2 separate regions of the Homo sapiens genome follow, and region 1 is linked to region 2. The links come from fine-mapping of genetic effects on gene expression. Tissue or cell type: whole blood. Region 2 holds a variant in brackets; the other region holds the start of a gene. All regions are shown on one strand. Distances are between the middles of the regions.

Region 1 (8,000 bases), 55 kb after region 2:
ACAAACAAGTGGATTCAAAGGCCCATCTGCTGGCTAGCAGAGCCCCATCCTATCAGAGTGCACATCTGAAAAGGCTGGCGCCTGTCCCTACCTACGGCAGGTGGGGCACTTCATGGCCCATGAAGTGGCTCTAACCACCCACTGTTGCCATCAACGTGCACTACCCCCCAAACCCTCCCCCCAAGACAAGGATTACACTTGCAGAGGGGCTCAGCTTTGCAAGGAATGTGTCCTGGGGGCTAAATAGCAGCCACCAGACCCCTGGAAAGATAATGAGGGAGACTGCCTTATTGTCGGAGATGCCCAATCAGAAAGGCAATCTCAAGGTAGCCAGGTTGGACCCATTCTAGAAGTTAAAGGAAAAGACCAAGAGTCCGGAACCTGCCCCCTCTCTTGATGGGTTTCCCCATCTGTAAGACAAAGGGGCTAGATGAGATGATGGCCAACATCTCTTCCTGCTCTGAGATCAGATTTTTACAAGGCCGGACATTCAGCTAAACAACCCACCCCGGGCCGGACCATTCGGGTCATTCTTTGCCCAAACATTAAGAGCAGGGCCATTTTTTTTTTTTTTTTTTTTGAGATGGAGTCTCGCTCTGTCACCCAAGCTAGAGTGCAGTGGCACCATCTCGACTTACTGCAACCTCTGCCTCCCGGGTTCAAGTGATTCTCCTGCCTCAGCCTCCTGAGTAGCTGGGACTACAGGCGCCTGCCATCATGCCCGGCTAATTTTTGTATTTTTAGTAGAGATGGGGTTTCACCATGTTAGCCAGGATGGTCTCGATCTCCTGACCTCGTGACCCACCCACCTTGGACTCCCAAAGTGCTGGGATTACAGACAGAAGACACGGCACCCGGCCCAAAGCAGGGCCATTTTCAAATACCTTTAGACTTTTTCATTAGGGAATTCATAGACAATTCATCACCCGTCGTCAGTACAGAAGCCCTGCGCCCCCAGATTCTGAATGTGGAAAACATGATAATGTCCTTTGCACTGTCTCTCAGCCACTAAAGTCTCATTGGCCCTCACACCAAACAAAACAACCTCACGGGGCTCCCTGGTCACTGGCTCAACAGTTGCAGCATTTTGCAGCCAGTATAGAAATGTGGCCACCAGGGGGCACTGCCCTGAAAGTAATAAATAAGAAACGGAAAAACTCTTTGGTGTTTTCTTTTCCTTCTTAGGCTTAAGTGATAAAATATCTAAAGCTTCCCTAGTGAAAACACAAAGTGGGCTTCCTCGGGTTCTAGAATGGCCCTGATGACTTCTGCCTTCTTTGAAGCCAATATTTTGGCCAAAGGAAGGCAACTAGACTTTGAAGACAACAACTCTTTCAGAGAAAGTAATGCTCTACTCCCCAGAACGTTGATAGCATAGCTTGCTCTGAACCTCCCACCCCTTTAAAGGAAGAATGTCTACAAGGTCAAGCCAATCTGCAGGTCCAGCACGAGGACCTAGTTGTGAGTCTCGGCGAAGAATATTTTGCGAGAGCCTCCTAATTACCAAGCAAAACAAGCCAACCCAATGACAAGCCTCAAGCTTGAGTTGCAGACACAAGATGACATAAATACAGACAGCAGTACAAAGGGTGCGAGGTATTCGCTGGGATTTCCCAAGTCTTACATGACTGCAGGGGGAGCTCCGGTGCCTCACATCAGAACTGGACTTCGAGAACATGCCAAAGCAGCTGCTCCAAATTTCTTTAGTGTCTTAGAATGCCCTTCCCACAAGTGAGTGTATCCGCGGTACAACGTTCAAGTACCCTTTTGTAATGTTCCAAGGGTCCTAAGACTCATTTTCAAAGCTCTGGCTTCGAGCTCCTCCTGATTTCTTCATGAATTGCTGGGGCCACTCTGCATGCCCTATTGATCATGAAGAGCCTGTCTTCTAGGGAAACCGGCCTGGGAGAAGGCAGCCAACCCCATCCCCAGACCAAGGGATAAAGAACCAGGCACTATCCTGTACAAGCTGTGCCCCTCTGGCTGCAGGAAGAGCGCCTGCGGGGCTTGCACGGGGCAAAGGAGCAGCAGGCCCTTGGGAAAGGCATGAGGCACACAGAGGTGCTGCCAGGCTCACCTGCGCATGCCAGCTCAGACCAGCCACGGGCCCCCAGGAGCACCAGGGGTTACGGAAACCCAACTGTTCAATTCTCCAAGATGTGTGGGGCCCCCACAGGGACAAAAATGCAAGTAGAGCCCATTTTCAAAAATCAGTCTAACAAGCTGCATCACAAAAGGTTTCCACCTGGAGTTTGCAAAAGGCTTTCAGAGCTAGATTCTCTTAGGCTTGCATTGAGAAAAGGGCTTAACTGCTTCTCAGAGGCAAAGCTACAGTTGTGGAGCAAGGGAAGGCCTACCTGACCCAAGACTCAGTAGTTCTGTAATTTATTAAGAACGTGATCTGTTAAACACCGGAGACTCCGCCAAGGAGCACCAGCATGGTGGGAGCAGGGGCACACAGCCCAGATGGCAGAAGGCCACTCCACACCACGGGCATTTACCCAGCACTTTCTACGCACCAGCCACTCCCTAGCTGCGGGACCCCAAGCTAGGTACCCCGCTCCTCTGCCGATCGGTCCCCGTTCTCAGACAGGTGGCCCAGAATCACCACCCTGGCCAATTTGCAGGGCTGCTGCGAGGCTCTAATGAGACAGCAAATCACCACATACATGCCAAGAATTGCTACTCGCTTCAACTGGGCTTAACCTCATGATATGCAATGACAGCCTCAAGAGCCGAGCACACGCGGGGCACATAGTAGGTGGTCCACAAACGTGGGTGCCCTTTCTTCATGAAAGGGAAGGGGACGAAGGAAGAAAAACACTCCGGTCCAAAAGTACCCTCAAGCCCTTACCCCACAGCGTGGATGCCCCGATTTCCCAGGTCCCTCCGCAACCCTCAGTAGAACTCCCACCGCGCCCTGGGCTGCTGGGGGCCTCCCCAGCCGGGTCACAGTGCACCTGAACGCCCCGGTCCGTGCCACCTCGCCCGCACCGGCCACCGCTTCCCTGGAACGCGGCCGGCGGCCGCCACCGCCACCTGGCTGCTCGGACTCAGTCTCCCCGCGCGCCGCTTCTTCCCGTTTGGCTCCGATCTCCCAAAACAACTAATGAGGCTGCACCGGGCTCGGGCCGGGGGTCACCGGGCTCGGGCCGGGGGTCCCCGGGCGCCGGCGCCGCGTCCCTCCTTACCTGCACAGCTCGGCGAAGGCCTGGAAATTCAGCTTCTTGATTTTCTTCTCGCTCAGCCAGTAGCCAACTCTCTTCCCTTTCAGAAAGGTCTGCATCTTCCTCCTCGGGCGGGGAGCCTGGGTCCGGAGGAAATCGCCCACAGGCCGAGTCTGGCGGCCGGCGCGCGCCGCGAGCGAGTGGGCACCTCCTCCCGGCGGCGGGGACGCGGAACGGGGATCGGAGCTGGGGCGCGCAGTCCTGCCGCGCGGAGCGGAGCGGGGCGGGGCGCGGCGGGCGGCCGGGAGGAGGGAGCGGCGCTCAGCGCGGAAGGCCACTGGCTGGGCCAAGCTGCCACCGCCCACGCCCCCGCCGCCTGCGGGCTCGCCCGCCCGCCCACCGGCTCGCGAGCGCCGCGCCGCCCGGCCTGCCGGCTGAGGCTGGGGCACGGCTGAGCCTGAGTCTGAGTCGGAGCTGGGGCCAGGGCCCGCAGGAGGGGAAGCCGGGCCTCCGCAGACACCGCCCCCGCCCTGCCCGCCCTCCCGCCGCGCGGGCCCGAGCCACACGCCCTCAGGCGGCGGCAGAAGCGCGGCCTCCGAGCCCTTCCTCCCTCCTCCTCCCGCCCGGGTCCTCGCCCTCTGATGTTCCCAGCCGGGCCGTAACCCCTGGGCGCGCTTGGACCCCGGCGGGGCGCACGCGGCCACTCGGCCCGGCCAGAGATCCTCACCCGCCGCCGCCGCCGCCACTTCCTCCTCGGCCTGGTCCTCGCGCGCTGCCCGCCGAGAAGGGCGGCGGCGAGCGCCCGCGCACTCGCCGCCCCTGCCCGCCGCCGCCCCGCGCTGGCCCGGCCGCCCCGCTTGAGCCCGCGGCGGCGAGGAAGCGGCGGGGCGGCCGCCAGGGGGCAGCGCCGCCCGCCGCCTCTTAAAGGCGCCGCGCCGGCCCTCGCGGCTACCCGGCGCCTGTTTGTGTCCCCGGGTGTGGGGTGCGGGGCGCGGGGCTTCCTGGGGGCGGCCGTGGCCCGGCGGTCTTACTTCGGGAAGGGAGCCGCGGTGTGGGCGTGTGTTCCGCCTGGCCTTTGGGGGCGACCGAGCCGCTGAGTTTCGGAAACGTCTCTGTACCCCCAGCAGGGTTCAGCACCCCCAAGGCAATCCATTGCAACTGCGCCCGGAAGGAGACCTTCCAGGAATTCGCCCCTTCCCTCGAGGAAGCGGACCCTGGCCCAGGATGGGGCCCCCCGGGGGGGTGGGTGAACACCCAGGGGCCCTCCTAGGCGTAGGACGTGACCACCAGTTCTCACTCTAGGTCCCCTTCACTGAGGGGGGAAGGGGCGGGGACTGGAGGCGACAGCGACAACAGCGGCCGTCCCCGGAGACCCCTTCCTCAGGGGTGCGGGTCAGCGTCGGCGCCGGGGAGTCACTAAACCCCGCCTACCCTGCCCTGCCCTATGGGGCAGCCAGGGAGCTTTCCTGCCTCAATGGTCTCTGGGTTTGGGAAGGAGAAATGGACTTCTCTCCCCAGGCCCAGGCAGGAAAAATGGATTCCCGTGGAGGGAAGGCTCAGAAAAGTTTGAGAGGAGACACTGAAGCTGGCCTTGGAAATCAAGGAGATTTTGATGGAGCAGGGAAGGGGGATGAGCTTGAATTGAGGCTGGGAGACAAGAAAAAGCCAAGTTGCCAGCGGGTGACCAAGACTTCCCTTGATCACACTTGAGTCAGGCTCCTCCGAGACCTCTTTCTGACCAGGCCCCGACCTTGGGCTCTGTCCTTGGCCTTCTTAGTCCAGTTTTAGCCAGAATCCTGCTGTCAAGAATATCTCCACGCTTGGTATGTGATCACCCTGGCCGGCCTACATTAAGAAACTCCGTCTCAAAAAAAAAAGAAAGACAAGGATCTCTCTATGCTGCCCAGGCTGGAGTGCAATGGTGCAGTCATAGCTCACTGCAGCCTCGAACACCCCTGCTAAACTGATCCTCCCACCTCAGCCTCCCGAGCAGCTGGGACTACACTGTGTTGCCCAGGCAGGTCTCGAACTCCTGGCCTCAAGCTGTCCTCCCACCTGGGCCTCCCAAAGTGCTGGGATTGTAGACCTGAGCCACCCCGCCTGGCTTCCCTGCCATCTTTAACGAGAATCTGATTAGTTTTTTTCTTTAACAAGGTAGAGAAAACGGATGGATGGAGAGTGGAAAAGACGATGGGTGGGAAACAGGACTCCTCCAGGGGGCCAGCTAGGGACGGGCACTGCATGCCTTAGGCAAGGGTACTGCGAGTTTCATAGGCCATGGGAGCCTAGAAGGTAAGTGGTGACAGGTTCCAGGGTCAGCTCTGTGGCTTAGAATGCCTGGCTCCTGGGGGGGACATGGAAAGCTGGATAAAGGGAAGATCATAGCAAGGACCCCTAGGGCCGAGGCACAAGATGGATAAAAGAAGGCTAAGGGAGGCTGCGCATGGTGGCTCATGCCTGTAATCCCAGCACTTTGGGAGGCCGAGGTGGGCACATCATGAGGTCAGGAGATTGAGATCATCCTGGCTAACACGGTGAAACCCTGTCTCTACTAAAAATACAAAAAATTAGCCGGGCGTGGTGGCGGGCGCCTGTAGTCCCAGCTACTTGGGAGGCTAAGGCAGGAGAATGGCGTGAACCTGGGAGGCAGAGCTGGCAGTGAGCTGAGATCGTGCCACTGCACTCTAGCCTGGGCAACAGAGTGAGACTCCGTCTCAAAAAAAAAAAAAAAAAAAGAAGGCGGCTAAGGGAGTAAAAACGAAGGGGATGGGGGCAGCAACTATAAACTTGATACTTGAAGTCAGCAGTAGGGATTACAGGCATCGACTTTAAATGTCCTGCTGTTCTTAGGAACTGAAAGACCAGTTGAGGCTGGGTGGTTCAGGAGGGTTCCTGGAATTCCCTCACTCCTTTGGCAAACACACGAGAGCCCAGTGTGTGGCAGAGGAAAATGGACACAAGCCATTGATTAGAAACACGGGATGAGGCTGGGCGCTGGGAGGCCGAAGCAGGCGGATCACCTGAGATCAGGAGTTCGAGGCCAGCCTGACCAACATGGAGAAACCCCATCTCTACTAAAAATACAAAATTAGGTGGGCATGGTGGCGCATGCCTGTAATCCCAGCTACTTGGGAGGCTGAGGCAGGAGAATCGCTTGAACCAGAGAGGCGGAGGTTGCGGTCAGCCGAGGTCGCGCCATTGCACTCCAGCCTGGGCGGCAAGGGCAAAACTCCATCTCAAAAACAAAAAAAAGAAAGAAAAAAGGAAACGTGGGGTGAGAGCTGAGAGGGAAATGGGAAGGAAGATGGCAATCTGTCCCATTTTGCTGCATGACTGGGGAGACTGTGGCATAGGATCTTGAAGGATGAGTAGGAAGGAGTTCAGTGGGGGAAGGAGGCAACATTCCAGGCAAAGGCGAAAACAGGTGCGAAGTTTCAGAGGGTGAAAAGGGAAGAACACCGTAAATAAGGGCACGGTAAGATGGAGATGGGCAGGAAGATGAGGCCTGAGAAATGGACCAGGGGAACTTGGGAGGGATGCTGAAGACAGTGTGTGTGTGGTCACTTCTGAACAGGAGCTGGATGAAGTTCTTTTTTTTTCTTAATATTATTTTATTTTATCTTATTTTATTATTTTATTTTATTTTATTTTTTGAAATGGAGTCTTGTTGTGTCATCCAGGCTGGAGTCCAGTGCACCTCCCGGGTTCAAGCGATTCTCCTGCCTTGACCTCCCGGTAGCTGGGACTATTGGCACGTGTCACCACGCCCAGCTAATTTTTGTATTTTTTTTTTTTTTTGAGACGGAGTCTTGCTTTGTTGCCCAGACTGGAGTGCAGTGGCGCAATCTCGGCTCACTGCAAGCTCCACCTCCCGGGTTCATGCCATTCTCCTGCCTCAGCCTCCTGAGTAGCTGGGACTACAGGCGCCCGCCACCACGCCCGGCTAATTTTTTGTATTTTTAGTAGAGATGGGGTTTCACCGTGTTAACCAGGCTGGTCTCAAACTCCTGACCTCAAGTGATCTGCCTGCCTCGACCTCCCAAAGTGCTGGGATTACAGGCATGAGCCACCATGCCTGGCCTGGATGAAGTTCTTTTGGTATCTTCATCTGTAAAGTGGGGATAGATGCCCCACCCAGAGCTGTTGAGAAGATTTAAAGGGCCAGCAGAGAACTTGCCTGGAGGACAAAGTATATACAAGGGCATGGCCATCCTCAGGCTCACAGGAAGCCCCTTATTTAGGGCTCACCCCAGGGCCCTGCATCCTTCCCCTGATTACAGCCTCCCCCAAACCATTCTTCCTTCTGGCCTTCTGAGTTGGAGCTAGGTAAGGCTCGTCCTCACTGGGACTTCCAAGGTGAACACAAATGTCCTCTGTCTCTAGCTCTCAACTCGACCACTCACTTGCTATGTGACCTTGTAGGCCACTTAGCCTATCGAGGCCTCAGATCCTCTATCTTACTTCATAAGGTAAACCTTGCTCCATGACAGGAGTTGAAAATACAGCCAGGTGGGGTGGTGCACACCTGTAGTACCAACTACTTGGGAGGCTGAGATGGGACGATCGCTTGAGCCCAGGAGTTCGAGGCTGTAGTGCACGATTATCATACCTATGAATAGCCTCCACACTCCAGCCTGGGCAACATAGCGAGACCTCATGTCTAATAAATAAAAATTTAAAAGGCTGGGAATGGCGGCACACCTGTAGTCCCAGCTACTCAGGAGGCTGCAGCAGGAGGATTTCTTGAGCCCAGGAGTTTCAGGCCATCCTGGGCAATACTATGAGACCACATCTCAAATAAATAAATAAATAAACCTGCAACCCTCGTTTGCC
Region 2 (8,000 bases):
CGAGGTCCAACGTGGAGAGCTAGCTGTGTTCTCTCGAAATCTGTCCTGCTGAAACAGCACCCAAAGAGCCTGCTTCAAGCAGATCGACAAATTCTCCCACATGCACACTCACTCACACATTCACTCACTCACACACACTTGCTCACTCCTACTCACTTGCTGCCCAGGGGGCGAGAGGCCTCAGATCCCTGGATTCTGCAGTATGAACAGGGCAACCTCACCAAGCTGACTTCAAGATGAAAGGCTAAGAAAGGAAACAGACGTGCGAGTACACCTGGGAGATTTTCTAGCCCCGTTTTCTGAAGAATCAGGGATTTACAGAAGGTGAGAGTGAAACGGGACCCATGAGATCCTATCAGCTGTCAGACAGAGAAAGAAGCAGAGCCCGGCCGAGGCCATGCAGGGAGGAGAGGCAGAACCAGCAGGGACCCCAGTCTCCTGCGGCCCCAGCCTGCAGCACAGGCAGCCGTGGCTTCATGCTCTCCCATGGGGGCCACACGACTCAGGGCTCACCCACCAGGCACCCTCCTGGTCATTCTCACCATGCTTGGTGGCGCTAGGCACCTTGATGGAGAGAAAAAGGATCATGACCCACGATTCTGGCATCACCACATGCTGTCTCTCAAGGGGCTACCTACTGACAGGTGGGAGAAACCCATCAGCTCGGCGAGAGCCCTCCCCAGCTCCCTGGCCCGATCTTCCCAGGCGGCCCCATGGTTGTCTGTCTCCCTGAGCTACTGACGCAGAAGAGGTCAAAGACTTGGTCATCTTAGAGTCCCTAGAGGGCAGCAGGGGACCTGCCACTGGGGCCTGGGTGAGCACCCAGCAACAGAAGGAATGAAGGGCTGAGCCCCTGTTAGGGCCCTGGGCCTGCAAGCCCATCAGCTCCCTTAAAGGATCAATCATAAATTGATGACAGAAATGAGCCATGGGGTGATGGCCACAGGGGCATCTGGGAGGGCCAGTCTGGAAGGTCGAAGCCAGAGTGGCCATGCGGGACTCTGGGTAGGGACAGAAGAACTGGGTCCGCTCTCACAGAGGCCACGGGACACATTGCTGCTCTGCCTTGAGGTCCACAGGGTCATAAGGCAGGGGTGGAGGGGGTGTAGGTCGCAACACAGGGGTGGAGGGGGTGCGGGTCACGAGGCAGGGGTTGAGGGGGTGCGGGTCACGAGGCGGGGTGGAGGGGGTGCGGGTCACGAGGCAGGGTGGAGGGGGTGCGGGTCACGAGGCGGGGTGGAGGGGGTGTGAGTCACGAGGCGGGGTGGAAGCGGTGCGGGTTACAAGGCGGGGGTGGGTGCTGGTCACGAGGCAGGGTGGAGGGGGTGCGGGTCACGAGGCAGGGGTGGAGGGGGTGCAGGTCGTGAGGCAGGGGTGGAGGGGGTGCGGGTTATGAGGTGGGGTGGAGGGGGTGCAGGTCACGAGGCAGGGGTGGAGGGGGTGCGGATCATGAGGCAAGGGTGAACGGGGTGCGGGTTACGAGGGAGGGTGGAGGGGGTGCGGGTCTTGAGGCGGGGGCGGGTGCTGGTCACAAGGTGGGGTGGAGGGGGTACGGGTCACAAGGCGGGGTGGAGGGGGTGCAGGTCGTGAGGCAGGGGTGGAGGGGGTGCAGGTCACGAGGCGGGGTGGAGGGGGTGCGGGTCACGAGGCAGGGGTGGAGGGGGTGCGGATCATAAGGCAGGGGTGGAGGGGGTGCGGGTCACGAGGCGGGGTGGAGGGGGTGCGGATCATGAAGCAGGGGTGGAGGGGGTGCGGGTCTCGAGGCAGGGGCGGGTGCTGGTCACGAGGGGGGTGGAGGGGGTGCAGGTCGTGAGGCAGGGGTGGAGGGGGTGCAGGTCACAAGGCAAGGGTGGAGGGGGTGTGGGTCACGAGGCAGGGGTGGAGGGGGTGCAGATCATGAGGCAGGGGTGGAGGGGGGTGTGGGTCTCGAGGCAGGGGTGGAGGGTGTGTGGGTCTCGAGGCGGGGATGGGTGCTGGTCATGAGGCAGGGGTGGAGGGAGTATGGGTGACGAAGCAGGGGTGGAGGGGGTGCGGGTCCTAAGCAGGGGGGAGGGGGTGCGGGTCACAAGGCAGGGGTGGAGGGGGGTGTGGGTCACGAGACAGGGGTGGAGGTGGTATGGGTCTCGAGGCGGGGGCGGGTGCTGATCCCGAGGCAGGGACGGAGGGAGTGCAGGTCACGAGGCAGGGGTGGAGGGGGTGCGGGTCTCAAGGTGGGCGCAGGTGCTGGTCACAAGGCAGGGGTGGGGAGGGTGCTGGTCATGAGGCAGGGGTGGAGGGGGTGCAGGTCACAAGGCAGGGGTGGAGGGGGTGCGGGTCACGAGGCAGGGGTGGAGGGGGTGCGGGTCACGAGGCAGGGGTGGAGAGGGTGTGGGTCACGGTCACGAGGCAGGGGTGGAGGGGGTGCGGGTCACGAGGCAGGGGTGGAGGGGGTGCGGGTCACGAGGCAGGGGTGGAGGGGGTGCGGGTCACGAGGCAGGGGTGGAGGGGGTGCTGGTCACGAGGCAGGGGTGGAGGGGGTGGGGGTCCCGAGGCAGGGGTGGAGGGGGTGAGGGTCCCGAAGCAGGAGTGGAGGGGGTGCAAGTCACGAGGCAGGGGTGGAGGGGGTGCAGGTCATGAGGCAGGGGTGGGGGGTGCTGGTCACTCCCTGCTCACCCCCATCCACACTGCCTGGCTCTGAGCCTGGGAGGCTGACTGCCGTAGAACGCAGCATTCAAGATCCAGGGCTTCCAGTTGCACTTGGCCAAGAGGGGTCACTGGCAGGAGACCAGAGGGCAGGAGGAGGGGGGTGGGGTATTTAGTCCCCTCTCTCTCCCTGCTTCAGTGACATGCCTGGGCAGTGGCTGTGGCTTGCTATGACTACCATCACAGAGCTTCTGCGACACTTTCTTCACCTTACCTGCGGCCCAAGAAGCAGAACAGCTCCTCTCTGCTGCCAGGCTCTAGGTGCCTCACCAGCCCCCGCTGCTCCCTTAACCCTGCCCACAGCTCAACAAACAGCCCCTGCTTTCAAGGCTCTCTTTGAACCACTGAGGGTGAGCTCTGCTTCCTGCAAGCTCCCTGGCTAATATGAAGAGGAACACGTTCTGGGTCACCACACATACAGGGTCAGAAGACAGGGAGCAAATTTGAGCCACAGAGACGAGCACAGAACCACCAGGCTACGTGGGCCAGGCATGCACCCTGACCAGGAGAGAGGCCAGGCTGAGGGTACACAGTCTGGAACAGGCGAGTATCAGCATGGGGACAGTGAAACAAGCTCAGGAATGGAGGGGACCCTGCTCTGCTGCAAAAGGCCCATGCTTGCAAGGTATTAGGGGGCTGATTGTGTGGTAGCCTTGGAAAATTCAGGAAGGCCACGGGAGGTTTTTATGAGGAACCAGAGAGGTCTGGTTAGCACTGGGGAAGGGGCAGGGGATGGAAGAGTCAGAGTAGAAAGAGCCTAGGCCATAGGCAACAGCAGATCTGAGTTCAAAGACCCAGAGTGATTGGTGCTTGGAGCTCTGTGACTAGAAATATCACAGAAGCAGGTGACAGATCTGAGCCTCAGTTTCCTCATCTGCAAAATAGGGAGAATAATAAATAGATCCCATCTCACAGAGCTATTATGAGAACTAGGAAGATAAAAGTAAAAAAGTCCAAGGCAGAGGGGGACACAGGCTCCACAATGACAAGGATTTTGGTTCAAGGTCAGGTAGCTGGGGTTCCCTGGAACAGTGACCCACACCCACAACAAAAGTTCCACTCCAAATCTGGACTGGCTCCATACCACTAGGGAATCACTGGAGGGATCACTCCAAAAGACAACTTAACATGCAAGCTGGTGTTTGATACTCTTCAGAAATTAACTTTCCGGACTGCAATTCCCCAAATGACTCCTAACCCTCCACCACTAGCTGCAGATTCCTCAACACAGATCTGGGGCCAGGCTGTGTGATAAGTACTTTGACACTGTATCTCAATTACCCTTCTTAACCTTAGAGGTTGGTGTTACGACAACCCCTTTTTCCAGGCAAGGAGGCTGAAGCACCCTCGGTGCTGGGAAGAAGCAAGACCAGAGGCCACCCGGGGACCACCCACCTCCTCCAGAGCCCACCACTCCTTCCTCCTCTCCCTGGGGTGAGGAACAATTGCAAGGGGAGAAAAGTCCATGGGCACAGCTGCGGCTAGGCTACAGCCCCCAGCCTCATGGGCAGAGAGAGTGGGTCTGGGGCAGGAGTGAGAAAGGAGGGGAGGGAGGGCACATGAGAGAGAAATGAGTTGCTGTATGCGTGCCTGGTGCACAGGTGATAACACAGCATTCAAATCTAGAAGCACAAACTCCCACAAGACCTTCCCTTTCTGTAATTCCCCAAAATGCAGGGGTTTGTTTATTTCACCAAGAAGTACATATTCCTCCTACAGACTACAAAAACAATATATACAACTTACTTATGTAACCCAAAGAAATAATCATCACAGGCTTGCCCAAACAGTATCAAAAGTGGATGTTTATCACAATACTATTTATAAAGGTGACAGACCAGAACCATGGTCAGCATCAACCAAGGGAATCAAAGAACTTCAGTTACAATCAGATAATATTATGCAGTCATTTAAAAAGCAAGCCTAAGTAGACATTTAACAAAGG[G/A]GGAAGCTCTAAGAGAATGCTAAGTGTGTTTGTGGGAACAGATTACAACAGAACCACAACTTTGTTTACAACTATGTCAAGGCTGGTGGCTCGCGCCTGTAATCCCAACACTTTTAGAAGCCGAGGCGGGCAGATCACTTGAGGTCAGGAGTTCAAGACCACCCTGGCCAACACGGTGAAACCCCATCACTACTAAAAATACAAAAATTAGCCAGGCATGGTGGCGCGTGCCTGTAATCTCAGTTACTCTGGGGTCTGAGACAGGAAAATCGCTTGAACCTGGGAGGCGGAGGTTGCAGCGAGCCAAGATCGAGCCATTGCACTCCAGCCTGGGCGACAGAGCGAGATTCCATCTCAAAAAAAAAACTGCATCAAAGATGTTGGTGCACACCATGGTCCCAGCTACTAAGAAGGCTGAGGTGGGAGGATTGCTTGAGCCCAGGAGTTCAAAGCTGCAGCAAGCTATGATCGCACCACTACACTCCAGCCTGAGTGACAGAGCAAAACCCCATCTCTAAAAAAAGTTTAATTAAAAAAAAAAGTTTTTTTAATGCATCAGTGTGTGTGCCATTTTTATGCTCAAAGGACATGAATAAAGTCACACTTTATTCACATTTTAGTGTGCTGGTTATCCTTCGGCTAGGGAGTAACACATTTTGTTCCCACAAGCTACACAGGAGGCTCTCCAGACCTTCCTGAAAGGCACTTTCAAACCTGCTTCTGGAGGGTCAGAACATCATGCAGGACAGAGGTCAGGCACTAGCAGGAGGCCCTGGTCCCACGGCAGGTCTGTGCTATTTGAAGTCGTAAAGCAGGTCAATGGTGGCCCAGTGTGAGGGGCTGCAGGGGCTGCCAGGCTCACAGTCAAGGCCAGGGCCTGGCCTACCATACACCAAGGCGTTTCATCTTCTCCCCAAGAAGATATACTGGGTGGGCAGGGGTCCTTGTCCCTGATGGACAAAGGAAGGCACTGAGGGCTCAGACAGCAAAAATAACCGAGGGTCCTGAGCGATCCGGCGGAATATTTGGTCGACAGGAAAACTCATCAAGTCCTGCCCTCACCAGGCCCCAAAGCCCTGGCTTAAGGGAGGGCCAGGCCTGGCATTTGTCAAGATTTAACAAGTTCAGTAAATGTGCGCCCCCACCCCACCCCCATCTCCCATCTCTCTCCCACGCCAGACCCTTCTCCAAGCCCCACTCCTTGGCCATTAGCTCAGTCCCAAAGGCATCCTTGCCCATCCCGGCTGCCGATGATCCTGTCAAAACACTGTAAATAACTTATTTCTACTTGGCAGGGCCTGCGGCAAAAATACTGCCTGGGCAAGGAAGGGAGTGAGCCAAGGTCTGCCTCCAAGCCAGGACCCACACCCTCCTGCCCAGGGACCCCTGGTCCCCCACCCACCTGAGATGGCAGAGACCCACAGTGGAGGCCAAACTCCTGCCCAGTGAGACAGGGGTGTGAGCTTCACAAGACCCCTCGAGTCATCTCAGGAGCCAGAAAACCAGTGAGCTTCCCACTCCCCACAGCCCCACACAGCACACTAAGCCCTGTCCCTGACCTCAGGCTACCCACGCTTCTCCTACGAGGGCCTGAGTTTTAGAAGGCCTTCTCACTTGCCCTCCCCTCGTCTCAATCATCCATCTCATCACCATCTGGTAGATGGGCCTCAGAGAGGTTGTGCCACTACCCAGGACTGCACAGCCTTGGAGGGATGGAGCTGGAACTAGGGAGGAGTCACTGGACTCTCACCAGGCAGGCAGTCTTCGGAGCAGAAGAGGCACTGGCTATGCCATCACACCTCTAGAATCCAATCCCAGCTCCACAGCTCACATGCTAGGCTGTGACAAGCCCACCTGTGTGAGCCTCAGTCCTCTCACCTGGCAAGTGGGGCACTAACCCTGGCACTCAGTAGACGAGGCACACACAGGAGTTCTCACTGCTGCTGCCTGGGCTGCTCATAGAAGCCCAGCCCAGACGCCAAACGCACTTTGGAATTTTTACATGCGCATTCTAGAACTCTGAAGCAATCCTACTAGGTGCTTACTGCCCAGACAACAGGGCTGGTGACCTTTAAAAAAAAAAAATTGGCCGGGCATGGTGGCTCACACCTGTAATCCCAGCACTTTGGGAGGCCAAGGTGGGTGGATCACGAGGTCAGGAGATTGAGACCATCCTGGCTAACATGGTGAAACCCTGTCTCTACCAAAAATACAAAAAATTAGCCGGGCGTGGTGGCGGGCACCTGTAGTCCCAGCTACTTGGGAGGCTGAGGCAGAAGAATGGCGTGAACGTGGGAGGCAGAGCTTGCAGTGAGCCGAGGTCGCGCCACTGCACTCCAGCCTGGGCGACAGAGCGAGACTCCATCTCAAAAAATAAAAATTAAAATTTTCGTAGAGATGGGGTCTCACTATGTCGCCCAGGCTGGTCTTGAACTCCAGGCTTCAAGCAATTCTCCTGCCTTGGCCTCTCAAAGTGTTGGGATTACAGACACAGGCCATCATGCCTGGCTGCTGGTGGCCTTCCTGCAGAGAATCCAGGAGCTCTAAATGTTCCCCCAGGACACCTGATCAAAGCCCCCTCTCAGGCCTCTGTACCCCATTCCCACCGGAACCCTGGGAGCCACCCCAGGCGGCTTCTGTAGAAGTGCTGAGTGAGCCCCATGCACCACCGCCAAGTTTCTGGGACACAGCTGCAGGGCCGGGCACCAGCAAGCCGGGATCTCCTTATAGGGTATACTCTAAGGCCATTGCATAAAGCTCAAAAAGAGAAAGACTCAGATTGACAGTCGAGCTGGAAAACAGGCCTGTGAAAGGAGAACTAGACACCAGGGCAATCAGGTCCCTGAAAGGGCTGTCTCTGCCTACCATTTGTGCAGAACATCAGAGAACTTGAGGCAAAGACGGGAGCCACTGTGCTTCCCAGGGGAGTTCTTGAGCTGAGGGTGGATCAAGGGGAAGGAGAAAGACAGAGCCAAGTTACAACTCTGGATTTACACAGCTTTTGGAAAAGTCACGATGAGTGTGCGGGGAATCCCTGGGACCTCCCCTGCCCATAATGAACTAGCACGGGAGGGGGTCATGGGGCTAGGGTCAGGGGTCAGCACTCCCTGGGGGTGATGCCTTCACCCCATCATGGCTAGACCTGGGGAGATCCAGAAAGAAGGAAAACATAAATCAGCCCATGCCCCCAAATGCACCCCAGCCAGAGCAAAATCTGCTCTAACCCCAGAGGACAAGCTGGGACCTCACTCACTCACAGCAGGAGACTCATCCCTGGTCAGCCCTGCTTTAGCCAAACCAAACAGACATAACTTATGCTACAGACATTTCTGGCTTTTTTACTCATGAAAATAAATCAAACAGAAGAGATCCT

The links. PIP is the estimated chance that this variant, and not a neighbour inherited with it, causes the effect.
Region 1: ITPK1 starts here. The variant in region 2 is fine-mapped to the expression of ITPK1 in whole blood (TOPMed, PIP above 0.99).

The regions. Positions count from the first base shown.
Region 1 is chr14:93,111,878-93,119,877 of GRCh38, forward strand. It overlaps ITPK1 (inositol-tetrakisphosphate 1-kinase), which reads right to left and starts at 4,048. Exons shown (of 11, transcript NM_014216.6): 1 at 3,895-4,048; 2 at 3,192-3,428. The coding sequence starts at 3,286.
Region 2 is chr14:93,057,288-93,065,287 of GRCh38, forward strand. The region is part of intron 3 of ITPK1 (inositol-tetrakisphosphate 1-kinase); the gene reads right to left. Among named protein-coding and RNA genes, the nearest start is that of ITPK1-AS1, 6.2 kb to the right of the region's middle. The variant G/A (reference allele first, on the strand shown) is at 4,628.